4 linked regions of the Homo sapiens genome follow. Changing the gene in region 3 together with the main gene of any one other region gives a genetic interaction. Each region holds a gene or a part of one and is shown on either strand. Other genes may lie near its edges.

Region 1 (7,027 bases), on a different chromosome or scaffold from region 3:
CCTCTCTCACCACTCCTATTCAACAGAGTGTTGGAAGTTCTGGCCAGGGCAATCAGGCAAGAGAAAGAAATAAAGGGTATTCAATTAGGAAAAGAGGAAGTCAAATTGTTCCTGTTTGCAGATGACATGATTGTATATTTAGAAAACCCTATCCTCTCAGCCCAAAATCTCCTTAAGCTGATAAGCAACTTCAGCAAAGTCTCAGGATACAAAATCAATGTGCGAAAATCACAAGCATTCTTATACACCAATAACAGACAAACAGAGAGCCAAATCATGAGTGAACTCCCATTCACAATTGCTTCAAAGAGAATAAAATGCCTAGGAATCCAACTTACAAGGGACATGAAGGACCTCTTCAAGGAGAACTACAAACCACTGCTCAATGAAATAAAAGAGGACACAAACAAATGGAAGAACATTCCATACTCATGGGTAGGAAGAATCAATATTGTGAAAATGGCCATACTGCACAAGGTAATTTATAGACTCAATGCCATCCCCATCAAGCTACCAATGACTTTCTTCACAGAATTGGAAAAAATTACTTTAAAGTTCATATGGAACCAAAAAAGAGTCTGCATTGCCAAGACAATCCTAAGCCAAAAGAACAAAGCTGGAGGCATCACGCTACCTGACTTCAAACTATAGTACAAGGCTACAGTAACCAAAACAACATGGTACTGGTACCAAAACAGAGATATAGACCAATGGAACAGAACAGAGCCCTCGGAAATAATACCACACATCTACAACCATCTGATCTTTGACAAACCTGAGAAAAACAAGCAATGGGGAAAGGATTCCCTATTTAATAAATGGTGCTGGGAAAACTGGCTAGCCATATGTAGAAAGCTGAAACTGGATCCCTTCCTTACACCTTATACAAAAATTAATTCAAGATGGATTAAAGACTTAAATGTTAGACCTAAAACCATAAACACCCTAGAAGAAAACCTAGGTAATACCATTCAGGACATAGGCATGGGCAAGGACTTCATGACTAAAACACCAAAAGCAATGGCAACAAAAGCCAAAATTGACCAATGGGATGTAATTAAACTAAAGAGCTTCTGCACAGCAAAATAAACTACCATCTGAGTGAACAGGCAACCTACAGAATGGGAGAAAATTTTTACAATCTACCCATCTGACAAAGGGCTAATATCCAGAATCTACAAAGAACTTAAACAAATTTACAAGAAAAAATAAAACAACCCCATCAAAAAGTGGGCGAAGGATATGAACAGACACTTCTCAAAAGAAGACATTTATGCAGCCAACAGATACGTGAAAAAATGCTCATCATCACTGGCCATCAGAGAAATGCAAATCAAAACCACACATCTCATGCCAGTTAGCATGGAGATCATTAAAAAGTCAGGAAACAACAGGTGCTGGAGAGGATGTGGAGAAATAGGAATGCTTTTACACTGTTGGTGGGAATGTAAACTAATTCAACCATTGTGGAAGACAGTGTGGTGATTCCTCAAGGATCCAGAACAAGAAATACCATATGACCCAGCCATCCCATTACTGGGCATATACCCAAAGGATTATAAATCATGCTGCTATAAAGTCACATGCACACATATGTTTATTGCGGCACTATTCACAATAGCAAAGACTTGGAACCAACCCAAATGTCCAACAATGATAGACTGGATTAAGAAAATGTGGCACATATACACCATGGAATACTATGCAGCCATAAAAAATGATGAGCTCATGTCCTTTGTAGGGACATGGATGAAGCTGGAAACCATCATTCTGAGCAAACTATCGCAAGGACAGAAAACCAAACACTGCATATTCTCACTCATAGGTGGGAATTGAACAATGAGAACACTTGGACACAGGGTGGGGAACATCACATACTGGGGCCTGTCATAGGGTGGGGGGTGTGGGGAGGGATACCACTAGGAGATATACCTAATTGAATGACAAATTAATGGGTACAGCACACCAACATGGCACATGTATACATATGCAACAAACCTGCACGTTGTGCGCATGTACCCCATAACTTAAAGTATAATAATAAAATAAATAAATAAATAAACTAGGTATTAAAGGAACACACCTCAAAATAATCAGAGCCATCTATGAAAAACCCACAGCCAACATTATATTGAACAGGGAAAAGCTGGAAGCATTCCTCTTGAAAACTGACACAAGAAAAGGATGCCCTCTTCCACAACTTCTATCCAAGACAATATTGGAAGTCTTGGCCAGAACAATCAGTCAAGAGAAAGAAATGAAGGACATCCAAGTAGGAAGAGAGAAAGTCAAACTATCCCTGTTTGGAGAAAACATGATTCTATATCTAGAAAACTCCAGAGCCTCATCCCAAAAACTCCTTAAGTTAATAAACAACTTCGGCAAAATTTTAGGACACAAAATCAACATACAAAAATCACTAGCACTCCTATACACCAACAACAGCCAAGCTGAGAGTAAAATCAGGAACACAATCCCATTTACAACTGTCACAAAAAGAATAAGATACCTAGGAATACAGCTAACCAGGGAGATGAAAGATCTCTACAATGAGAATTACAAAACACTGCTTAAGGAAATCAGAGATAACACAAGCAAATGAAAAAACATTACATGCTCATGGATACGAAAAATCAATATCTTTACAGTCACCATACTGCCCAAAGCAATGTACAGATTCAATGCTATTCCTATCAAATTGCCAGTGACACTCTTCACAGAACTAGAAAAAAATACTTTAAAATTCAATGGTACCCAAAAAGAGCCTGAATAGTCAAGGCAATTCTAAGCAAAAGAACAAAGCTGGAGGCATCATGTTACCTGCCTTCAAACTATACTACAGGGCTACAGTAACCAAAACAGTACAGTACTGGTACAAAAACAGACACATAGACCAATGGAATAGAATAGGGAGCTCAGAAATAAGGCTACACACCTATAATTATGTGATCTTCAACAAAGTTGACAAAAATAAGCAATGGGGAAAGGTGCTGGGATAACCTGCTAGCCATATGCTAGCCATATATCTTACACCAGATATAAAAATCAACTCAAGATAGATAAAAGACTTAAATGTAAAACCCAAAACTATAAACACCCTGGAAGACAACCAAGGCAACACTATTCTAAACATAGGAATGGGCAAAGATTTCATGACAAAGACACCAAAAGCAATCACAACAAAAGCAAAAATTGACAAATGGTATCTAATTAAACGTAAGAGCTTCCGCAGAGCAAAAGAAAGCATCAACAGAGTAAAAAGACTATCTAAAGAATGGGAAAGAAATATTTGCAAACTATGCATCTGACAAAGGTCCAATATGCACCATCTATAAGAAACTTTAATTTACAAGAAAAAAAGCAAAGAACCCCATTAAAAAGTGGGCAAAGGACATGAACAGACACTTCTCAAAAGAAGACATACACATGGCCAATAACCATATGAAAAAAAAGCTCAACATCACTATCATTAGAGAAATGCAAATCAAAACCACAATGAAATATCATCTCACACCAGTCAGAATGGCTATTATTAAAAAGTAAAAAAATAACAGGTGCTGTCAAGGTTGTGGAGAAAAAGAAATGTTTATACACTGGTGATGAGAGTATAAATTAGTTCAACCATTGTAGAAAGCAGTGTAGTGATTCCTAAAAGACCTGAAAACAGAACTACCATTTGACCTAGGAATCTCATTATTGGGTATATACCCAAAGGAATATAAATCATTCTGCCATAAAGACATACCCGCAAGTATGTTCATCGCAGCACTATTCATAATAGCAAAGACATGGAATCAACCTGAATGCCCATCAATGGTAAACTGGAAAAAGAAAATGTGATACATATACACATACATATACATATACATGAAGGTGCCAGATTTTTTGCATTTTTGTGTTTTTTGTTGGTGATTTTGCTGTTTAAAGGGTCCCAGTGCCTAGTGATGAAGTGCTATTTAGTGTTCCTAAGCACAAGAAGGCTGTAACACACCTCATGGAGAAAATGCATGTCTTAGATAAGCTTTGTTCAGACGTGAGTTATAGTGCTGTTGGGTGTGAGTTTAATGTTAATGAATCAACCGTATATATTAAATAAGGTGTCTTTAAACAGAAACATACATGAATCAAACTTATGTATTGATCAGTTGACAAAAATGTGGCCAGAGATTAGTGGGAACCTAACCCTGTATTTCCTCTAAGACTAGTGGTTCAGTATTCACTAATTCAGTGTTTGTGGTGACTTTATAGTCCTAATTACTGTCAATAATGAGAACCGACTATAAATAGATTAGGTCAAACGCTCAGTGATTAACTTGCAAATGTTCAAATTGCCCATAAAAACACAACTGTAAAAATAATTGTTATGAAAACACAACTGTAAAAATAATTGTTAATACATTTATGTTTAGATAACATTTTATCATTTCTCACTGTTGGTACAATTGTGAAACTGCCTATGATATATAAGACCTCAGACACCTAAAAAGCAAAGAGATAAAAATATGTTGGAACGGGAGAATATCTCAAAGATGGTCTAGCACCTCTACTTTTGAAGCTATTTTTCTCTATTGCTTTGGAATGGCACTGATGCCATGGCTCCTTTCTTTACTTCCTTCAGGCCTCTATTCATATGTCATCTTATCACTGAGGCATTCTCTGATCCGCCTCTATAAAGAGCCCCTCAACTTCCATTCCCTTTACTCAGCTTTATTTTCCTCCATTGCTGTTATCATCATCTGACATATAACCAATCTATTTATTTGCTATTGCTTATCTCCTCCAACAAGATTGGAACCTCTATAGGGGCAAGTACCTATAACATGCAAGGAAAGGAGAAATGGTGCACTATTAGCTTGTCATAGTCATCTGAAAAATATCAAGTACCTTCCTGAAAACATCTGGCACCTAGAACAGTGCATGGAACAAAGCAGGCATGCAAATAAATATCTGTTAAACAAACTACTAAATGAAAACAATAATGGATTCATAGGAGCTCAGTGCATGGTAAAAATTAGTCACATATGGCACTAGGTATCCTGGAATAGGGACATAAAATACTTCAGAAACTATATCTTTGCTGCTAGAAATATTTTTTTAACTAAGACAAATTTGGAATTGACTTCCTAATTCCTACACTTTGTAGTAAAGAAAGGCCACCTATATCCTCTATGCATGTAACTTTAATAAAAGTTTCCTTTGTATTAAAAAATCCAAACTTACGAAATAGAGGACTTTTTACATATAGAAGAGGTTTTTTCATTTAAAAATGGTTTCATTTCAGAAATTCTTTAGATGGTAAGCTTTCCTAGAATATAGCAAGTATCATTTACCAAAAATATATGAGCTACACAAAAAATTTTAGGCTCATATCTGCTAATAGAAGTAGTGCTATTTTTGTAAACTCACACTTAAGATAAAACGTTTAATCCCTCTTCCATACTTACATCCCAGCAGGGATGCTATTCCCCTACTCCCTGTTTGAACTGCCATTTTAACCTGGTTTCTTACCAAATTATTCAGCTATGATGAGAGTTTGATTTTGAGTGAATAAGTATTAATATCATTCTGAAAAAATTATGTTACTATTAGTGTTGGCACATATTAGCACATACACACATGCAAATACCTAGCCATTCATAATAATTCATGCAGGACAGATTACCAATGTCCTCCCCTTACCCTAATAAATGAAATGTATCCTTCTATAAATTAGAATGATGCCTCAGACCCCACAACTTTCAAAAATATATGCTATACCTGTGTGAATTGGTCACAGTCAACAACGCGGAAAGTTTTGCCATAAATTGTGATGTTTATTCCTCGATTTAGGTCTTTCCAATGGTAATGGTCACCCCGGTCATTCTTGGCTAGCCGCTGGCGTTTTATTAACTTGCCTTGAAGGATTCCAGAATTTTCTACAACAGGCTCTATGACAGACATGCTGTCATCTTCTAGATAATAGTAAATGTTCACCTGACGGATCCTATACTGTTCCTCAGTTGACATAGGAACATCTTCTTGGAAATAGGCATCAAATTTCAGTACCTATAACATACAAGGAAAGGAGAAATGGTGTACTATTAGCTTGTCATAGTCATCTGAAAAATATCAAGTACCTTCCTGAAAACAGAACCACACAGGGAGATTTTAACACTCATCACTTCTATCCTGTAAATCTTGATACTCTAAAACTACAGATACTGCAAACTATAGTCCATGGGACAAATCTAACCTGCCACCTGTTTTTTTTATGACCTGCAAGCTAAGAGTGGGTTTTACATATTTAAATGGTTTAAAAAATTTTAAAAAATGTTTCATAACACATGGAAATTATAAAAATTTAAATTTTCAATCCACAAATAATTATGTAAATAATTTACGCTTTTTTGTTAACAGCTGCTCTCCCATTACAAGGGAAGAGTTGAATAGTTGTGACAGAGATACACAGACTAAATTGTGTCCCCCTCATCCCCAAAATTCATATGTTGAACCCCTAACCCTCAATGTGACTATATTTGGAGACAGGATCCTTAGGAGGTAATTAAGGTTAAACCAGATCTTAAGGATAGAGGTATGCCACCTTTAAGTCTAATCCCATAGAACTGGTTGCCTTAGAAGAGAAGAAGAGAAAGAGAGTTACTTCCCTCCCCTAACTCCCACATGTACACACCAAGGTAAGGCCACATGAAGACATAGCAAGAAGACCGCTGTATGCAAGCCAGGAAGAGAGCCCTCACCAGAATTCAAACCAGCTGGCACCTTGATCTTGGACCTCCAACCTCCAGAACTGTGAGAAAATAAATTCTATTATTTAAACCACTCAATCTGTGGTATTTTGTTGTGGCAGACTACGCAGGCTAAAACCACTGCAATGGCCAAAATATACGCTAACTGCCCTTTACAGAAAAAGTTTGCTGACATCTGCTTTAAATACTCACAATGTGTATAAACTATTTATTGCATATGTTCCTTGGTGAGAATACATCTTAAAGGACTTAACTCTACTAGCTTCACCTCCATGTCAAAA
Region 2 (7,027 bases), on a different chromosome or scaffold from region 3:
GTGAGTCAAGATCGCACCACTGCACCCCAGCCGGGGTGACAGAGCGAGACTCTGTCTCTGAATAAATAAATAAATAAATAAATGAATAAATAAATAAATAAATAAATAAATAAATAAGGGAGGTGAGGAGACACAGAGAAACAGAGGTCAGAGGCAGAGAGGGAGACAGGGTGAGTCAGACAGGTGTAGTTGGACGTTGAATGAATGAATGCACGAATTTACGGGAAGGCAAGGGTGAGCATGAGAGCCACAGAGATGGAACAGAAAGAGAGACAGTGAGAAATAGGGAACTGAAGACACACACGCCAAGGCAGGAGAACCGCTTGAGTCCAGGAGTTTGAGACCAGCCTGGGCAACATTGTGAAATCCCATCTTTCCAAAAGAGAGATGGAGAAATGGACGTGTTGTGGGAGAGAGAGAGAGAGAAATGCGTAGGGCTCAACACACTGTAGGTCTTCAGGAAATGCCTGCAGAGCAGAAAAGTTGATAGACACATAGAAACCTTAGGAGAGGCCGGGCGTGGTGGCTCATGCCTGTAATTCCAGCATTTTGGGAGGCCGAGGCGGGCGGATCACGAGGTCAGGAGATCGAGACCATCCTGGCTAACATGGTGAAACCCCGTCTCTACTAAAAATACAAAAAATTAGCTGGGTGTGGTGGCAGACGCTGGAAGTCCCAGCTACTTGGGAGGCTGAGGCAGGAGAATGGCATGAACCCAGAAGGCGGAGCTTGCAGTGAGCCCAGATCGCGCCACTGCACTCCAGCCTGGGCGACAGAGCTAGGCTCCGTTTCAAAAAAAAAAAAAAAAAAACCTTAGGAGAGTCGGAGAAACAGAGAGCAGGGAGAGAAATAGAGGGAATTCAGTCCACGGAAAAGTGTGATCTATGGCAGCATCTAGTAGCTGCTGAGTTAATTCTTGCGTATGGATTAACTGCCTGAGGTGCACAGAGCCCAAAGGCAGAGAGAGGGGCTGAAGGATAGACAGGTGTGTAGCATGGGCTAGGTTTACGGTGAGTGCTTAGTAAATGCTGTGGAATGATTGCATGAGTTCCAGAAGGACCCAGACTGGTGAGACAGAGAATGCAGAATTGGCTACACTGGGAAGGAGACTCCACCTGACACAGCAGGAGAAGGATAAGCAGATGTTGTATAGTGCTTGGGCAGGGCCAGGCAAAGGGGAGATTTGCTCAGAAAATGTTGAATGAATGAATGCACAAATGCATGGGAAGGCAAAGGTAAGCATGAGAGAGCCACAGAGATGAAACAAACAAACAAAAAAGACAGAAATAGGGAATTAAATAGGGCCAGGCACGGTGGCTCACGCCTGTAATCCCAGCACTTTGGGAGGCCTAGGCGGGCAGATCACTTGAGGTCAGGAGTTCAATACCACACTGGCCAACATGGCGAAACCCCATCTCTACTAAAAATACAAAAATTAGCCGGGCGTGGTGGTGCATGCCTGTAATCCCAGCTACTTGGGAGGCTGAGGCAGGAGAATCACTTGCATCCGGGGGGCAAAGGTTGCAGTGAGCCAAGATCACGCCACTGCACTTCAGCCTGGGCGACAGAGCAAAACTCCATCTCAATCAGTCAATCAATCAATCAATCAATCAATAAAAGACATGTAGGGCCGGGCACAGTGGCTCACGCCTGTAATCCCAACACTTTGGGAGGCCAAGGTGGGCGGATCACTTGAGCTCAGGGGTTCGAGATCAGACTGGCCAACATGGCCAACCCCATCTCTACTAAAAATACAAAAATTAGCCTGATGTGGTGGCGTGCATCTGTAATCCTGGCTACTCGAGAGGCTGAGGTGGGAGAATCACTTGAACCCGGGAGGTGGAGGTTGCAGTGGTTGCAGTGAGCCGAGATCATGCCACTGCACCCCAGCCTGGGAGACAAGAGTGAGATTCCTACTCAAAAAAAAAAAAAAAAAAAAAAAAAGAAAAAGGAAAAAGACACATAGGTTAAGGCAGGAGAATCACTTGAGCCCAGGAGTTGGAGACCAGCCTCGGCAACCTAGCAAAGCCCCATCTTTACAAAAAATATTAAGAAATTAGCCAGGTGTGGTGGTGCACACTTGTAGTCCCAGACACTACATAGGCTGAGGTGGGAGGATCTCTCCGTTGGGATACTGAGCCTAGGAGGTCGAGGATGCAGTGAGCCAAGATCGTACCACTGCACTCCAGCCTGGGCTACAGAGCAAGACCATCAAAAAAATAAAAAATAAGACACACATGAAAGAGACACAGAGAGAAAAACAGACGAATGGAAAGATAGGGACACAGGGAGAGACAAAAATGGAGATTCATAAATAGAGACAGCTGGCCAGCTAAGTGAGATAGAAGCTGAGAGAGGCGAAGAGAGAGGGACTTCAAGGATGCAAGAAGAGAGAGGAATTGCATGGTGACCCGACCAAGGCCAGGTTTTGGGGGATGGGCCAGCAGTGAAGGGGGGGGCCTCCGAACCACCAGTCTGTCTCTGTAGAGGGGGGCATTCTCGGGGCAGACCCCAGCCTTGGGGGTGACTGGGTCCCCCTGGCCCCACAGGTCAGTGACGCGGAGTTATTACCGAGGGGCGGCTGGAGCCCTGCTGGTGTACGACATCACCAGGTGGGTGCCCGGGGTGGGTGGGGTAGGGCATGGGTGGTTCCTCTCCTGCACTGCCTCCCTCCCTTCTCCCTTCTCCACAGCCGGGAGACATACAACTCACTGGCTGCCTGGCTGACGGATGCCCGCACCCTGGCCAGCCCCAACATCGTGGTCATCCTCTGTGGCAACAAGAAGGACCTGGACCCTGAGCGGGAGGTCACTTTCCTGGAGGCCTCCCGCTTTGCCCAGGAGAATGGTGAGGGCTGTGTCGTGGACCAGGTGGTGGTGGGGGTGGACAGTCCACAGGGACCATGGGTTTACTGGCTCTCAGTGGCTGTACCCAGCAGGGGAACGTGGAGGTTCAGAAGTCTGGGTTCAAATTTGAGTGTTGGCTGGGTGTAGTGGCTCACACCTGTAATCCCAGCAGTTTGGGAGGCCAAGGTGGGAGGACTGCTTGAGCCCAGGAGTTTGAGACCAGCCTGGACAACACAGTGAGATCCTATCTCTATAAAAAATTTAAAAAATTAGCTGGGTGTGGTGGCTCATGGCTGTAGTCCCAGCTACAGTGGAGGCTGAGGCAGGAGGATCACCTGAGCCTGAGAGTTTAAGACTGCAGTGAGCTGTGATCACGCCATTGTACTCCAGTCTGGGAGACAGAGCAAGACACTGTCTCCAAAAACAACAACAACAACAAAACAACAACAAAACTAAGTGTTGCCATCAGTGAGCTATGTGATTACACTGGTTCTCAGTTTCTTCATCTGGAAAGTGGGATCACAGTGTTTCTGCCCCACAGTGTGCTGTGATGATTAAGGGAGATTGTGGAAAGTCCTTAGCACCCGCCACAGAGTGGGTGCTAGATTAATGTTGGCCGCTAAGGTTTCGCCTACCGTCAGGAGGCCGCACAGGGTATTGGTTTTTTAAATTAATTATTTTATTTATTTTTTCCTCCTACCGCACCTTCCTGGGTATTGGTTTAATGTAGAGATTGCAACCCTAGATGGCCCTAGGTGAAAGGCACTTTTTTTTTTTTTTTTCTGAGACGGAGTCTTGTTCTGTTGCCCAGGCTGGAGTATAGTGGCGCAATCTCGGCTCACTGCAACTTCTGCCTCAGCCTCCCGAGTAGCTGGGACTACAGGTGTGCGCCACAACGCCTGGCTAATTTTTATATTTTTAGTAGAGACGGGGTTTCACCATATTGGCCAGGCTGATCTCGAACTCCTGACCTTGTGATCCGACTGCCTCGGCCTCCCAAAGTACTGGGATTACAGGCGTGAGACACTGCGCCCGGTGAAAGGCACATTTTTGAATACAGGAGATGGGATGGGGTAGATCCTTGAGTAACAGGTACTGGTGTTAAGGGGAGTGCAGCATACTGACAACCCACACCAAAAGGTTTGCAAGGGCCAACCACAATGGCTCACACCTGTAATCCCAGCATTTTGGGAGGCCAAGGTAGGAGCATCACTTGAGATCAGGAGTTTTAGACCAGCCTGTGTAACAGAGTGAGACCCTGCCTCTACAAAAAAAAAAAAAAAAAAAAAGCCTGGGTGTGGTGGTATGTGCCTGTGGTCTGGGGTACTCAGGAGGTTGAGGCAGGAGGATCACTTGTGCCCAGAAGTTCGAGGCTGCAGTGATCTGCAATCACACCACTGCACTCCAGCCTGGGGGACAGAGAGAGACTTTGTCTCAAAGAAAAAAACAAAAAAGGTTTGCAAGTATAAACTCATTTGAAAACATTGTGTTGGCCAAACCACCCACATCTGGTGGCTTGAGATCTGCCTGTGTTCCCCTGTTTTGCAACCTCCAGGTTTAAAGGAGGTTTTGCCATCAGAGAGGTGTGGGTGTGAATTCAGCTCTGATTTTCTGACTGTGGGGCCTTGTCATGCTGCTGATGGGTAGACTCTGGTTGGCCTGTTCCTGTCCTAGATGGTGCTAGAGACACAGTGTTGGAGACAGCCCTAGGCCCAACCTTCATGGAGCTCACAGTTCAGTGGGTGAGGGTGGAAGGACAGACCCACTTCCAGACAGTGACACCTCAGGAAGGTCAGGGCTTGATGGTGAAGCACCGGGAGACAGGGGTCAGAGCCAGCAGGGGAGAGCCCCAGAGGGTCAGGGCCAGTACTGGGGGGGCAGGCAGAGGGATCGGGGTGGGATGGAGAACACAGGCAGAGGGGTCAGGGCTGGGATAGGGCAGGCAGAGGCAGAGGGGTCAGTTGGGATGAGGGGACACAGGCAGAGGAGTTACATGGGATGGGGGGCAAGGGCAGAGGGGTTGGGGTGGGATGGGGGGCCCAGGTAGAGGGGTCAAGGCCAAGTTTGGGAGGCACAGGCAGAGCGGTTGCATGGGATGGGGGAGCATGGGCAGAGGGCTCAGGGGTGGAATGGGGCAGGCCTAGGCAGAAGGGTCAGGGGTGGAATGGGGCAGGTCCAGGCAGAAGGGTCAGGAAAGGAATGGGGCAGGCCCAGGCAGAAGGGTCAGGGGTGGGATGGGGACCCAGGCAGAGGGTTGGGGCCAGGATGAGGAAGCACAAGCAGTGGGGTCAGGGCCAGGATAGGGGGCCACAAGAAGCTGTGGGAGCCCTAAGTCGGTACCTGACTCAGCCCAGGAAGTCAGGGAGGACTTCTTGGAGGAGGAGCTGTGTGAGCTGAGCTCTGAAGGAAGAGCTGGGTGGGCATATCGGGAAGCGGACATTAGTGGCAGGGAAATGGCATGCGCAGAGGCCTGAGGTGAGGGTAAGGGGGGATGGAACATTGGAGGAACAGGATGAGAGTCAGCAGGTGAGAGCTCAGTGGAGGGTGGGGACTAACTGGGGCCCTGACCTCAGAGTGTGTGCCCCTGCAGAGCTGATGTTCCTGGAGACCAGCGCTCTCACAGGCGAGAACGTGGAGGAGGCGTTCCTCAAGTGTGCCCGCACTATCCTCAACAAGATTGACTCAGGTGAGGCCCCGACCGGCCCGAGTGGGAGCGAAGGGCAGGCCCGGGGGTCTCCAGGCAACCAATGCTGACCTCTCCCCTTCCCCACAGGCGAGCTAGACCCGGAGAGGATGGGCTCTGGCATTCAGTACGGGGATGCGTCCCTCCGCCAGCTTCGGCAGCCTCGGAGTGCCCAGGCCGTGGCCCCTCAGCCGTGTGGCTGCTGAGCTCTGTGGAGCCAGGTGGGACACTGGGGGCTTTAGGGAGGCAGGGCGGCCTCTTGGGCATGGGGGAGATGGTGTGGAGATAGACACTGAACATGTGATGACAAGAGAAACAGAGTGAGAGAAAGATGCAAAAACACACAAGCTAAAGGAGGCATCTGGCTGGGCGCAGTGGCTCACGCCTGTAATCTTAGCACTTTGGGAGTCCGAGGCGGGCGGAGGCAGTTCATTGGGTGGGGGTGGGGAGACAGACCCACTTCCAGACAGTGACAGCTCAGAAAGGTCAGGGCCAGGCCTGGCTCGGTGGCTTATGCCTGTAATCCCTGTACTTTGGAAGGCCGAGGCGGGCGGATGACCTGAGGTCAGGAGTTCGAGACCAGCCTGGCCAACATGGTGAAGCCCCCTCTCTACTAAACATACAAAAATTAGCTGGGCGTGGTGGCAGGTGCCTGTAATCCCAGCTACTCGGGAAGTTGAGGCAGGAGAATCACTTGAACCTGGGAGGTGGAGGTTGCAGTGAGCTGAGATCACACCATTGCACTCCAGCCTGGGTGACAAGAGCAAGACTTTGTCTCAAAAAAAAAAAAGAAAGAAAGGTCAGGACCAGATGGGGAGGCACTGGGGGAGAGGGGTCAGAGCCAGCAGGGGAGAGGCCCAGGGGGGTCAGGGCCAGGGTCAGGGCACAGGCAGAGGGATCAGGGTGGGATAGGGCAGGCAGAGGCAGAGGGGTCAGGTGGGATGAGGGGACACAGGCAGAGGGGTTGCATTTGATGGGGGGTATACATAAGGTCAGGAGTTCTAGACCAGCCTGGCCAACGTGGTGAAACCCCTCCTCTACTAAAAATACAAAAATTAGCCAGGCATGGTGGTACATGCCTATAGTCCCAGCTACTTGGGAGACTGAGGCAGGAGAATCACTTGAACCCAGGAAGCTGAGGGTGCAGTGAGCCAAGATTCAGCCACTGCATTCCAGCCTGGGCGACAGAGCAAGACTCTGTCTCAAAAAAAAAAAAAAAAAAAAAAAAAAGAGACATCTGCCAGGCCACAGGGAATCCACCTGCAGCCCCAGGCCAGCTTCCTGCCCTAGACCTTGACCCTCCCATTCATAGTTCTCCAGCGATTTATTGAGCGCCTGCTGTGTGCCAGGCCCTGCTCAAGGCACTGGGGATATGGCAGGGAGTACAACAGACTCCCATCCTCATGGTGCTGACATTCTCTTTGGGGGAGACAGGTGATAAACAAGAGATGTAAGTCGACTGGGCGCAGTGGCTCACACCTGTAATCCCAGCACTTTG
Region 3 (7,027 bases):
TCAAAGTTGTAAAAATTAGAGGCATATTCTTCTGGTTTGAACAGATGGAATAGATTATTGTCAAATACATTGGTGTTTGAACCATCTTTATGAGGTCTTGATGCAGTAAAACTTTAATAGTTGATGTTTTGAGTATAAATAATAGACTATGGAAACAATAAAATGTTTAATTCTGGATTCGTCAGCCAGGAAAAATAATGCTTTATATAAATTTAAATTCTAGAGATAGACTACAAATTACTGTTCCTGTTTATGCCTTCATTTTTCTCTTCACCAGTATTTTAAAGAACATAATTTAATTAACATATTTCTAATCTGCACATCTTTCTTATAGGTGCTGAAAGGACATGATGATCATGTGATCACATGCTTACAGTTTTGTGGTAACCGAATAGTTAGTGGTTCTGATGACAACACTTTAAAAGTTTGGTCAGCAGTCACAGGCAAAGTAAGTTTACTCTTCCTACACTTCACAAAGTCATAATTTTGTGTATATCATTGCAAGTAGCAACTGGAAAAAAGAAAACAATAATTCATTTTTGATTCTTAGTTATTTGGATAGCAAATATCAGAGCTCATAACTTAGCTTTTTTCCCCATATTTATGAAAGCCAATGGCATGAGGATAGTGATGCTTCTCATGATAGAGGTTTCATTAATTTTTTTTCATTTACATAGTTTGTCTATCTTTGTGACAGATACTTTAACATTTTCAAGGGTGCTTTATGTTTTTCTTGGCTCAATTTTTCCCCACTTTTATTTACTATCTAAGTTATACCTCATTACTTTGTAATGTTTTTCAAAAGTATGGTTGAGGGATATTTATTTTTCCTTATAAACTGCTTTGTTGATAACCTACCTGTAGTTTAGAACTTAATAAATCATGTTAATTTATACTTATCTCAAACCCTTGTGAGATGAGAGTGGACAAGGCATTTAAATGTTAAGTTTGAAGAAAAAGCCCAAGCAATCAGCTTGACTGTGTACCATATCATACCTTAATGATTCTCTAGTGAATATTTATTTTTATCTGTCCAGTAGAGAATATTTTCATGAATTAAGTAATTGCCACCTAAAAAATAACAGAAGAGAGTATGAAAACAAAAAAAAATCCATGTCTTTTAAAATGTCTTTTACCATGTTGCTTCTTGGCAAGTATCTTATAAATATTCCAAGTCAGATGTTAAAATTTTTTAAAGCAGCTTTATATTTCCATAGTGTAATATTAGTTTGGGATTTATTACAGGGCTTTAATGTCTGTCTTTACTTGTCTAGAAGTAGCTTCACTGGCTCCTAACTACTGCCCTGGGGCAGATTCAGATGAAATGTGGTATGTAGCCACACCCAATACTGTTGGCATACTTTCATTGAATCTATTCCCATGGAAGAAACCCAGTTGCAATTTCAGTATTATTTCATCAAAGAGGCCAGGCCAGAGCTATCATAACTGCTTTCATGTCGTGTTTCCTTTTTATTATATCATGTTTTATATCATATGTTTGCTTTCTACATACTACATACACAATTGCTTGTGCTTATATAAATTTATAATGCTTTTGAATAAACAAAACAATAAATAGTGATGGGATCATTTTATACGGATGTAATATTTTCTGAAGAGCCAAACAAATTAAATAAGTAACTTTACTCCAAATTTTAATGAGCTATTAAATTTTATTTAAATCACTTTTCCTTTCTACCCAAAAGTAATCATCTTAAGTGTTTTTCCAGTGTCTGAGAACATTAGTGGGACATACAGGTGGAGTATGGTCATCACAAATGAGAGACAACATCATCATTAGTGGATCTACAGATCGGACACTCAAAGTGTGGAATGCAGAGACTGGAGAATGTATACACACCTTATATGGGCATACTTCCACTGTGCGTTGTATGCATCTTCATGAAAAAAGGTAAGGGAAAATCTTGTCATGGTTGGGACTTCTTCCTCTATTATTGGTGAATTTGGGCCCTTTCTGTGTAGAGTTACTGAAATAGTGACAGTGTGCTCTTAAATTAGATTTAATTATTACACTTCAGATGTTTCTATTCTAGGAAAGCCATAGCGTTTTGTCTTAAAATTGGTGATTGTCTGTAAATTTCCTTTCTCATTTGCTAGTGTTGTCAGCTTCCTGTTTGAAACTCTCTACTCTCTAATCTCTAATCCTTTTTGTTGTTCTGTATCTTTGATGACTCATCATATTCAAGCAGAAATCATGTTTTCTCTCTCTTTTTTTGATATTCTTATTTCCGCAAGTGGGACAAATTCAGGCTTCAAGCGTCTGAGCCTTTTTAAATTACCTACCCACCTTACACCCACCCTATCTCTAAGTCTAGGCAAAAGCTGAGGCCTGTGGGTAATTTGTTCTCTCATTCTGAACTATTGTCACAGCTTTCTAACTTGGTTATCTTATGTTTTATACAGCTGACATATAGTCCTTTTATAATTATGATAGTGTCACTGCCCAGTTCTTAAGTCTTTTTGAGCCTACTGTTGACTAACGAATTAAGGAAGAAATCCTCGATCCAGTTTTCAAAATGGTTTCTGCCAAACTGGACTTTTTGACTTTCTCTTCTCAGTGCCTTTGCTGTTGCTTTTATCTCCTCCTGTAAAGCCCTCCTATTAAAATCCTATCTTTCTATTATCGTCATCATACCCCTGTTAAACAAGTGTGATTTCTACCTCATTTGTCAAAAAAGGTCTCTCTGAAAGGTCCTTACAGTGAATCCATGGCAGTCTTTACCTTTAATTCTGTCTATCGCATCTTCTTTATTAAGAACAATTACATTAAGCAGATTTCACACCAGATTTGTAATATGTGAAAAGGAGTACCTTTTCAATTGTCATTTACCTCTACTTTGAACAGTGTGCTATACTGTTAAAATTTGGGGGATGAGTATCAAGAGACCTTGTATTCCAGTTTCCATTATGTTCTCTCAACATTAGGTTCTCAATTAAAGGGTTCTCTCAACCCTTTAATTATCTACTTTTTTAAAATATGGAAACTGTGGTATTTCTTTATCTCTTCAGAATGACATAAGGATACCTGAGTTTTCAGCTTTGTTTTGTAATCCAAAAGTGATTACAGTATTTGTATATTGCTCTGGTTTTCAGAAGAGTATAGCGCTGATGTTGAACCAAATGTTTAAGGGATAGCCATTGTTTTTAAAGATGTACATATCTTTTAAAATCTTTATCTCTTAATATTTTTATAGCCTATTGCATATTTATAAATCTAATCATTAAAAGCATAAGCAGCCTGTGTTTGAGGACATGTCTAAAACTGGTTAATTTTTACTGGAATGTATAGTGTAAACACAAATCTGCAGCTGTTTAAATTCCAAATTCTGACTTGTTTTGTTGTATAAACTTTATTGAATTTTTTACCTAATCACAAGGGAATATATGCATTCATAATTGAAATTTTGGAAAATGGCAAAGAACATAAAGAAAATTTAAATTCTTTAAACCACTACCACCTAGAGTTCTCCCATTAACATTTTATACATATGCCCACATTAACATTTTATTTCTAAAATCAAAATCTTATTGTATATATTTAGAGGCAGCTTCTGCTGCTTTTTAAAAAATACAGTACAGTGGTTTTCAAACTCAGTCCCACAGAACCTTAAGGTGCTGAACCTAAGGTCCCCAGGTCAGGGAACCAAGCATGCAGCATTCTAGGCTTCCCAACTTCCCATTCCCTTATTATGTTTATATACCAAGGTTTTACATAGGATTTCTTTTGAAAATGGTTGTTGCTGTGTAAAAAAAAAAAAAAAAAAGCTAAAAAACCTTGACTAAATCTACCATGTTTTCTCATATTATTAAAAATTCTAAACGTGGGTTTTTTTGTTTTGTTTTGTTTTTCTGTTTCTCCCTCTGCAGAGTTGTTAGCGGTTCTCGAGATGCCACTCTTAGGGTTTGGGATATTGAGACAGGCCAGTGTTTACATGTTTTGATGGGTCATGTTGCAGCAGTCCGCTGTGTTCAATATGATGGCAGGAGGGTTGTTAGTGGAGCATATGATTTTATGGTAAAGGTGTGGGATCCAGAGACTGAAACCTGTCTACACACGTTGCAGGGGCATACTAATAGAGTCTATTCATTACAGGTAAGATCTCTTATCTCTCCCTTAAATGCTCTCCTGATGAATCATAAGGTTGTTTTACTCAGATAATCACTGTCAAATTGCTGATCCAGTACAGTCCAAAAAAGATTAATCAGATTATTCTGCTGTTTTTATATACGTTAAAATTGGCATGAAGAAAGTGTAAATTTCAAAATTATTTAAATGCTTTCAATTTTCTGTGATCTATTTCTCCTCTAAATACAAATATTTGTTTTGCAACCTGACACTTTGGGGCTCTAAGTTTTGCTATGTTAATTAATGGTTAAATAGTCTCATAGGAGAGTAACCTGGATTTTAAGAAACTCCTTTGCAGAAGATTAATATGGCCAAAAGCTGCCCCTTTGCTTTGATAGCTGAAAGTTGATGGACCATGTAATTGTGATTCCATCCCCATTCAAAGTGGAAATAGATCCTTTCTGCATAAAGCACTCTACTGTCCCAGGCCCACTGATTTGTAGTCATAAAGAAGTAAAGTTGACTAAACCGATTTCTTTTTTTTGGTTTATATTTCAAGCCCATATCCTTGAAAACATTGCCATATTTTGAGATCATTAACTAGATGAATAGGAAGTTTAGAATATGAATCTTGTTTTATTTCCAGAAAGGCAACATTTTTAATGTAAAAATATTTCCTATAGCTTATATAGTTTATTTACCAGTTATTACCCATTAATGTTCAGCAAATTAGTACATAATCTTAGTACTGTCAATTCTGTTCTTAGGATATTTGTTTCTTTGTCAAAGGGATATTGTCCATGTCATGAAATATTGACAATATGATAAAAATGTTTGCTAAATTAGAAAAGGTGATGAATTTGGAGGAAGGGGAATTGGCTGCACCTGTTTCTGATATGTTCAGAAGCTTAATGAATATAATATTCTAATTTAAATAAACTGTTTGATTGAGAAAAGAGGTAGCCACATTATTGTTTAGAAATGATAGACTGTTATTGACTTTTGGTGTAGCTGGGAAGCTGGAGAAGAGGTAGTATGTAGTTTGCTTTTGATTTCAAAATGCCACCTCTTCTGATTCCAGATACAATTATCTTTTGGCACATTTCCTAATTAGCATTAGGTTCTTATAAATGAAATTTTATTTTACACACAGTTTTTAATGGAACTTACTTTTGAACATCACGAAAGTTATCTCTAGCCCTTTTCATGCCTTAGGTGCTGATAAGCATTCCGTTTATCATAAGCTATGTCATTAGTCTCAGCTTCCTAGTGGGAAGTAAAACTCATAGCAATTCTCTCAGTCATCCATGATATATAGCTAGGTGGGGCCAGATGATTTGAAAATTAACATATTGTTCATTTTAGGTGCTTTGTTTTCATTTTAAGTTGTTTCTGCATCTAGTTTGAAGCTGCTTGGCATAAAGATGAGCCTTTCTGATAGAAGTGTGTGAGAACATACATTGTAGAGTTGCTTGATGGCATGCACTTTATCCTCATTGCCACTTTATCTTAGTACCTCATTTTGTTCCTGGCATTACCTGTTTCCCATCCTCTTCCCCCTTTCCTACTAGGATTAAGGTCAGTAATTGATAGGAAGAGTATCCATACTTCTATTCTAATAAACTGTGTCTTTTGTAGTTTGATGGTATCCATGTGGTGAGTGGATCTCTTGATACATCAATCCGTGTTTGGGATGTGGAGACAGGGAATTGCATTCACACGTTAACAGGGCACCAGTCGTTAACAAGTGGAATGGAACTCAAAGACAATATTCTTGTCTCTGGGAATGCAGATTCTACAGTTAAAATCTGGGATATCAAAACAGGACAGTGTTTACAAACATTGCAAGGTAAGTCTTACTCACCTTTCGTTTTGTTCATTAAAAATGAGATCATTATTCAAGAGAAATATGGAGCCTTAGCATCACAAAAAGAGTCAACCTCATACAGAATGGTTACTTCAGAAAAGTTTATGAATATTTTCACCCTGACTTACAGAACTAGTCTACTCTTGAGGAAATGTTTTAAACTGTGTTTTTAATATGTAATATAAAATTGTTTAATCACTTCCTGCATGTTCAATTGACTCTACTTAACCTTTAAGAACAGTGAGAAGAAAGATCTTGGCTATATCATAGAAGCAACGTACTCATTATATTTTTTGATTGACCATTGCATTTTGAATTTGTAGTCCAATTTTAAAGGGCTACCTTATTGAAAAAAACAACAGCATCCTTGATAGAAAATTTATTTGGCCTCCACTTAGTCACGTGCTTAACTGGAATGGAGAGGAATAATAGTGCCTACTAAAGTAGAGAAAGAAACAAGTGAAAATCACTAATATTAGATGAGGTACAGCAGTGCCTCATGATTAACTTTTTCTATTTGTTATAGCCCTTAGAAAGTGTTTTTTTCAGTGGGGCCATCTGATAGGCAACATTGCAGCTTTTTACTCATTGGTTTTGTCTCTCCTCAGAGTTTTGGAATAGTGACTGTTCAGCTTTGAGTGGTTCATGGTGGTGGGGTAATAGATCTCTTAGTGCTCATTTGTCCATCAGCAGAAGGTATGAAGTTGCACTATCTACATCCTCACCAAGGAATGCTGTCGTTCACACAGCCAGAAAATAAGATGTTTGTCTGGTAGCTAACCAAGCTTCTTGGAAGACAGACCTCTTGAAAGTTAATGTTTCAGTTACAAATCACTACCAGATTTTCTTACATCCATGCTGATCCTAAAATACTGAGGACATGGGTTTCTAAATATGTATCATTTCAAATGTTGCATTTATTGTATGTTCTAAAGTAGAAGTCTACAAATTATAATGTAACTAACTCATAGCCATTATTTCTAACCAGTAATTAAATTCTTTTGGTTTTTGTCTAGGTCCCAACAAGCATCAGAGTGCTGTGACCTGTTTACAGTTCAACAAGAACTTTGTAA
Region 4 (7,027 bases), on a different chromosome or scaffold from region 3:
CATCTTTCAATATTGCCTTTTGTGGTACCTGGTTTTTACAGTCCCTTTAGTGGGAATCAGCTTGCTTCTCAATAACACACCTCACCCCAACCACTGTGCCCTTTGCAGGCTTTGAGTTTTATCTTTTGGCTCTGCTAAGCAGTCATCAATCATCAGTTTCTCCTTTATGGCCTTAAAAAACTGGTTTGCATATCATACCCTGTTTGCATTTGTGTCGTCCTGGTTAATTTATCCTTTCTTAAAAAAATGTCTCAGGTTGTGGGGGTCATGTTCGTGGGTTTTAGGAATGACTGGAGTGGAGAGAGAAAGATACATATATGTACTTCGTCCACTATGTTTATTAGAATTCCTTCCATTTATTCAGCCTGCACCAGTCTGGCCTCTGACCCCACCACTTCAGGGAAACTGCTTTTTTAGGTCACCTGTCATCCTCATGTTGCCAAATCTAGCGGCCGTTCTTCCCCCCAGTAGCACTTGACACTCAATTGTTCCTTCCTTGAAACATTGTTTTTCCAAGACACCACATTCCCATGTTTCCTCCTACTTTATAATCTTCCTTAACTGGCTTCTTTTACTCTGTTGTACTTTTAACAGTAGTGTCTCTGACTTTAGTCTTCAGCCCTCTTCTGTCATTCTGTTCCTCAGGTGGTTTAATCTGCTTTGATGATTTTAAGAAACATGAGTATTGGCCGGGCGCGGTGGCTCATGCCTATAATCCGAGCACTTTGGGAGGCTGAGGCTGGCAGATCACCAGGTCAGGGGATCGAGACCATCCTGGCTAACACAGTGAAACCCCGGCTGTACTAAAAATACAAAAAATTAGCCAGGCGTGGTGGCAGGCACCTGTAATCCCAGCTACTCGGGAGGCTGAGGCAGGAGAATGGCGTGAACCCGGGAGGCGGAGCTTGCAGTGAGCCGAGATCGCGCCACTGCACTCCAGCCTGGGCAACAGAGCGAGACTCCATCTCAAAAAAAAAAAAAAAGAAGCATGACCATTCTGAAGATTCTTAAAGCTGTCTGTTTGTTTTCATCTCCACTGCTACCACTCTTGCCTAGGTCTCTCTGACCTCTGGTCTGGACTCCCACAATAGCCTCTACACTGGTCACCTAGCTTATGCTCTTGCACCCCTACAGTGCATTCCTAACATAGAAGAAACTCCTTACCAAGGCCCATAGGCCCTTTAATAATGGTGTCCTGTTCATCAGTGAAACCCATGCTCATCAGGGACCTATGCACTGATTTCCTTCTGAGACTCTTCTTGGCTCTTTGCATAGCCAGCTGCTTTTAATCCTTCATGCCTCAGCCCAATTTTCACTCTTTAAAAGAGTACTTCCCTCACAATTGTGTCTTAGTTGGTCCTCTTTGTCTCCTCAACCCCAAACATCATAATCTATAATTTTTTTCATGTATTTGTTTATTGACATCTTACTTGCTAGAATCTAAACTCTGATACATGGGGTCTTATCTGTTTTTGCCTCTAGGGTGTCTTGTCTGCATAACAGGTGCTTAATAACTATTAGTTGAACCCCCATTTCCTCATAAGTCAGATGAAAATAAAAGCACGTGCCTTACTTCACAAAGTAATTAAGGGGATAAGTTATACTGATGTACTTTAAAAACTAGGTGGTAGGGAGGCACAGTGGCTCAGTCCTGTTGTCCTGATGCATGAGGAGGTAAGGCCAGGCATTCAAGACCAGTTTGGGCAACATAGGAAGCCTTCATCTATATAACAAAAAAAAATTTTTTTTTTTAGTTTAAAAACTAGGTGGTAGTTTTCAAACTGATACAATGGAATTAAAGATAGGAAACATGAAAAGAACATAGGTGCTTAATAAATATTTGTTGAATACGCTAACATGATGGAATTAGAGATGGAAAACAAAAATAATGAAAGGGATAGGATAAAGTTTGCTCAGCCTTTTTGGAAACATTAGGTAAGTTTCCATTTTGAGTTAGTAACAGTTAATTTTGCAAGTGTAAAAAATGTCCTTTCTCTATTTATCCCTTGTAACTGTTGATGCTGTGAAAGATTAATATTGCCTGCTAAAATTAGATACTGCATTATATGCATTTGATTTTGGTGAATGTCCATATTCAGCTTGAGAGAACTGCAAAGTGTCTGAGAGATTACTTTTAGACCCAGTAGTTTAATCTCCTTGGTTTATAGATCTTTCTATTTTGGAAGATACTACTATGATCACAGGACTTCATGTTTTCTAAGGGCAAACCGGAAAACTGGTTATAAATGCTTGTTATAGAGAGGAAAGTCCATTACCAAACACTTCTGACTTAAGTAGTTAAAATCTTCTCTTGAAGCTTCTCAGTCTTGCTAAGAATGATATTAAACATAAAATCAGAAAGATTAAATATGATTCTGTCACCTACATAGCATGTTTTATCTATTTTATTAATACTTTTTACAAATACTGTTTCTCTAGTGATGGCTCATGAAGCAATGGAATATGATGTTCAGGTGCAGTTAAATCATGCCGAACAACAGCCAGCTCCTGCTGGCATGGCCAGCAGCCAAGGGGGACCAGCCCTCCTCCAGCCTGTTCCTGCTGATGTGGTCAGCAGCCAGGGGGTACCATCCATCCTCCAGCCAGCTCCTGCTGAGGTGATCAGCAGCCAAGCGACACCACCCCTGCTCCAGCCTGCTCCGCAACTGTCTGTTGACCTGACAGAAGTGGAGGTCTTGGGAGAAGACACTGTGGAGAACATCAATCCAAGAACTTCAGAACAACATAGGCAGGGATCTGATGGTAATCACACCATCCCAGCATCTTCGTTGCATTCAATGACCAACTTCATCAGCGGACTGCAGAGACTTCATGGCATGCTGGAATTCCTGAGACCTTCATCTTCAAACCACAGTGTAGGGCCAATGAGAACAAGAAGGAGGGTATCTGCTTCACGGAGGGCAAGAGCCGGAGGGTCTCAGAGGACAGACAGTGCCAGGTAAATAAATATATGGATAAGTCTGTGATCATTGCTGTACTAGAAATTATGAAACTGAGGCTCTGCCATTCAAGGACTGACAGTGTGACTTTTGGCAAGTCAGGTAACTTCTGACCCCCAGTTCCTCATAGGTGGAAATAAAAGTGCTTGCCTTACTTCACAAAGTAATGAAGGGATAAGTTAAACTGTTGTGCCTTGAAAACTAGGTGGTAGTTTGTTGGCAATCTCTGTAGAGATTGGCTGTTGTTCAGATTGTGTCTTGTACACCAAAAATTCTTTCTTCACTTGCAAGTCTCTACTCACCCAAATTCATTATTCACTGGCATTCCACCTGGGGGCACAATTAATTAATTTTCTTTCATAGTCTTGGTTTGAACTTGCCTCTTGAAGGGCTTAGCTGTCAAGTCTTGACAGGGTTATTATGAAGAATAACAATTGCCTATACCCTGTCCGTTTTTTGGTTTTTTGTTTTTGTTTTTGAGACAGCGTCTCACTCTGTCGTCCAGGCTGGATTCCCGTGGCACAATCTTTGCTCACTGCAACCTCCATCTCCCAGATTCAAGCGATTCTCCTGCCTCAGCTTCCCCAGTACCTGGCATTACAGGCGCGTGCCACCACACCTAACTAATTAAACCTGTCTGTTTTTGGTTTTGTTTTGTTTTGAGATGGAGTCTCACTCTGTCGCCCAGGCTGGAGCGCAGTGGTGCGATCTCCGCTCAGAGAGGGCTTTGTTCAGGGTCTCATAACTATAGAATAGAGGAGTTAGCACTGATATTGGAGCCTGGATCTGCCCTGTTTTCTACATAGGCAGATGGAGGAAGCTTCGACGAAATCCCTTTGTTTTCTCTTTCTTCTTGTTTTTATTATTGTTATTTTTGAGACAGGGTCTCACTGTGCTCCCCAGGCTGGAGTGCAGTGGTGCAATCACAGCTCACTGCAGCCTCGACCTCCCCAGGCTTAGGCGATCTTCCTACCTCAGCCTCTTGATGATTAACTGGGACTACAGGCATACGCAACCATGCCGATGTTTTCTAACACTGTGAAAATATTGAGATGATACTAAAAAGTGGTAGCTAGGTCATCTATTACCCATGTTTTACAAATGAGGAAGCTGATGGGATAATTTGTGATTTGGTTGTGATAAGGCTGGAATTGGAATTGTGCCTTCTGTATCTGGATTCAGCATTCTTTTTCATGGATCCTGCTGATTTTAATGTTGGGGCTTGCCATGACTGTGGCTCCAGTGTCTGTAGTGCCCATCAAGGATGACAGATGCCTAGTTCTGTGTTGACAAGAGTTGCAAATGCATATTACTCTGGGTTTTTTTTTTGTTTTTAAGACAAGAGTCTTGCTCTGTCACTCAGGCTGGAGTGCAGTGGCGCAGTATCAGCTCACCAGGACCTCTGGCTCCCGGGTTCAAGCGATTCTTGTGCCTCAGCCTCCTAAGTAGCTGGGATTGCAGGCGTGCACCAGCAGGCTTGGCTATAGTCTGTTGTTTTAAGATGTCATTACTCACGTTATAAAGGCAGGGTAAGATTTCATACATTTGTGTTATAGGTGAAGGCACCTTATGGTGTAATTTGGGGACCCTCCCAAAGTAAATGGGCTAACTTTCCATGGTTGAGAGTTGTGAGTGGTGTTTCCAGGAGCTGGCTGACTGTCAGGAGGCCTCTTGCAAGTCCTCAGTCTTGCTTATCCATGCACTCATTCTTGTTGGGGGACGCAGAGTGGATTCCTCTTGGTCAAGCACAGTGACTTGTATTAACCAACTTAAGGGTGACACTTATAAACCAGATGCCAACTTACAAAGAAAAACAGAACCACTAGAGAGCCAAACAGAAGCCAAACTCTAGTGAGAAAATTGCTTGATGTGGCTGGGCATAGTGGCTCACGCCTGTAATCTCAGAACTTTGAGCGGCCAAGGCAGGCGGATCCCTTTAGGCCAGGAGTTCGAGGCCAACATGGTGAAACCCCATCTCTACTAAAAATACAAAAAATTAGCCGGGCGTGGTGGCACACACCTGTGGTCCCAGCTACTTGGGAGGTTAAGGCATGAGAATTCCTTGAACCTAGGAGGCGGAGCTTGCAGTGAGCCAAGATCTTGTCACTGTAATCCAGCCTGGGTGACAAGAGTGACTCTCTGTCTCAAAAAAAAAAAAAAAAAATTATAGAATCTGCTCAGGGAATGAGTTATACAGAATTTAAATGTTGAAAGATGTCAGTCAAGCTATTTGGCAGCCATAATCTGTCTCCACAAAGGGAATAACCTAAACGGTCAGGAAGTGTGCAGTTCAGTGGAAATTACATCAGTTCTGGAGCCAGGTAAATGTGATTAAAACTTTTTTCCCTGAAGTATGACCTTTCCCAGGACTAATCGCTTATAACTTCTGAATTTCTTGAGATGAATTTCTCAGTGTGGTGTTTGACATTTACTCATCTGACAGACTGTCCCTGGGCCAGGTGTTGAAAGCCTGGGCCAAGGTGAACAGCTTTTGACTCACAGTCAGCCAAGAAGCCAAAGCTATGGAAAGCTAAGTAGTGAGCTTATTCTTCCCAACAGGCTTAGCTGAGGTCACAAACTCCTTTCTGATTTGTTTGGGGCGGTTTCATTCTGGCAGTGGGGGTCATCACTCATTCATCAAATATTGATAACACTCCTCTGTGTGAGAGACTAAACTTTGCCCTAGATATATTGGTGAATAACACAGATCACAATATTGTTTTCCTGGAGCATACGGAGTCTAGGACTACAGAGAGTAGGGAAGGAGCAAAATTCAAAGTTGGTAAGTGCAGGGAAGGAGGAGAATTTCTTGGGTTCTAAATCTGTGCTCCCAAAGAGAAACCCTAGCACTGCTTCCTGTTGGTTTTCACAGTTCCCCTTTCCTGTGTTCTTGCCTGACTTTGGAAATTCTTTGCTACATAAAAGCAATATTAAAGAGTGATTTTTTTTAATCGTCTATCACTTTTTTACTGGGTTCTATGTAGAATTCTATTGATATACGTGTCAACACCCTAACTCTAGTATGTATTTGATTAAATCTTCTTATGAAATGCTTTTCTTATGTGTTTAGTCTCATGGTAGCTATAGCTGCTGTTCACTTAGAATCTCAAGAAATGGAGTTGGTAAACTTGCTTAGCACTGTCTAAAAAGAAAACCTGGCTAGGCGCAGTGGCTCACACCTGTAATCGCAGCATTTTGGGAGGCTGAGGCAGGCGAATCACCTGAGGTCACGAGTTCGAGACCAGCCTGGCCAACATGGTGAAACCCTGTCTACTAAAAATACAAAAATTAGTCGGGTGTGGTGGCGGGTGCCCATAATCCCAGCTGCTCAGGAGACTGAGGCAGGAGAATCGCTTGAACCCGGGAGGTGGATGTTGCAGTGAGCCGAGATTGCGCCACTACACTCCAGCCTGGGCCGCAGAGCGAGACTCCGTCTCAAAAAAAAAAAAAAAGAAAAAGAAAACCTGGGTGATGTCAGTGAAAATGGCAGAGTAAGGACCACAGAGAATTATCTCCATGGAAGTAGTGAAACAACTGGCAGAATTTGTCAGGATCAACTTTTTCATAATTCAGGAAACTGACCAAATGCTTATAGCAATCCAGGGAGTGATTATTAAAGAAAAACAGCCGAATCTCATTGAGCTCTATGGCATTCCTTATTCTTGTCACCTTCTCCAGCTCCTTGATAGTTGTGAAAAGCATCTGCCTGTAATCATAGTAAAAACCAACAGCCTGGCAGGCACCAGAGGGATTGGAGCACCTTCAAAGCCTCATTCCCAGAGAATTATCTTTATATGACCTGTTGGTGGTTCTCTGGAAAACCCCATTTGCAAGACTACTCTTGACTCTGAGCAATGCAGAGTGTGAAAAGCCTAAATCATTTTCCCTGGGGCCTGCCTGAGGTAATGGATATTCAGTGGGATAAGCAATAAACTAACCAATAAGAAGGAAAGGAAAATCTAGGAATGAGATCAATTCAGTCACATCTTCTAAGTCTAGTTCTCTTGCTGTTTCTAGCACATCTGCAGTTACTTTCTTAACTGAAGTCTTGAGCCCGGCAAAAGTCA

What was found.
Region 1: changes in FBXW7 (region 3) and EFHC1 are lethal when combined (synthetic lethality), as found in Homo sapiens cells (one study listed by BioGRID).
Region 2: changes in FBXW7 (region 3) and RAB4B are lethal when combined (synthetic lethality), as found in Homo sapiens cells (one study listed by BioGRID).
Region 4: changes in FBXW7 (region 3) and RFWD3 are lethal when combined (synthetic lethality), as found in Homo sapiens cells (one study listed by BioGRID).

What each region holds. Positions count from the first base shown.
Region 1 is NC_000006.12:52,437,322-52,444,348, reverse strand, and holds part of EFHC1 (EF-hand domain-containing protein 1), read right to left. Parts: intron 6,046-7,027; coding exon 5,758-6,045; intron 1-5,757. UniProt on the Homo sapiens protein: Microtubule inner protein (MIP) part of the dynein-decorated doublet microtubules (DMTs) in cilia axoneme, which is required for motile cilia beating.
Region 2 is NC_000019.10:40,781,229-40,788,255, forward strand, and holds part of RAB4B (ras-related protein Rab-4B), read left to right. Parts: intron 1-2,549; coding exon 2,550-2,612; intron 2,613-2,692; coding exon 2,693-2,847; intron 2,848-5,436; coding exon 5,437-5,532; intron 5,533-5,619; coding exon 5,620-5,735; 3' UTR 5,736-5,750; intron 5,751-7,027. UniProt on the Homo sapiens protein: The small GTPases Rab are key regulators of intracellular membrane trafficking, from the formation of transport vesicles to their fusion with membranes.
Region 3 is NC_000004.12:152,323,093-152,330,119, reverse strand, and holds part of FBXW7 (F-box/WD repeat-containing protein 7), read left to right. Parts: intron 1-334; coding exon 335-448; intron 449-1,730; coding exon 1,731-1,912; intron 1,913-3,888; coding exon 3,889-4,114; intron 4,115-5,725; coding exon 5,726-5,936; intron 5,937-6,970; coding exon 6,971-7,027. UniProt on the Homo sapiens protein: Substrate recognition component of a SCF (SKP1-CUL1-F-box protein) E3 ubiquitin-protein ligase complex which mediates the ubiquitination and subsequent proteasomal degradation of target proteins.
Region 4 is NC_000016.10:74,656,864-74,663,890, reverse strand, and holds part of RFWD3 (E3 ubiquitin-protein ligase RFWD3), read left to right. Parts: exon of another isoform or gene 1-1,935; intron 1,936-2,437; exon of another isoform or gene 2,438-2,439; 5' UTR 2,440-2,441; coding exon 2,442-2,959; intron 2,960-7,027. UniProt on the Homo sapiens protein: E3 ubiquitin-protein ligase required for the repair of DNA interstrand cross-links (ICL) in response to DNA damage. Plays a key role in RPA-mediated DNA damage signaling and repair.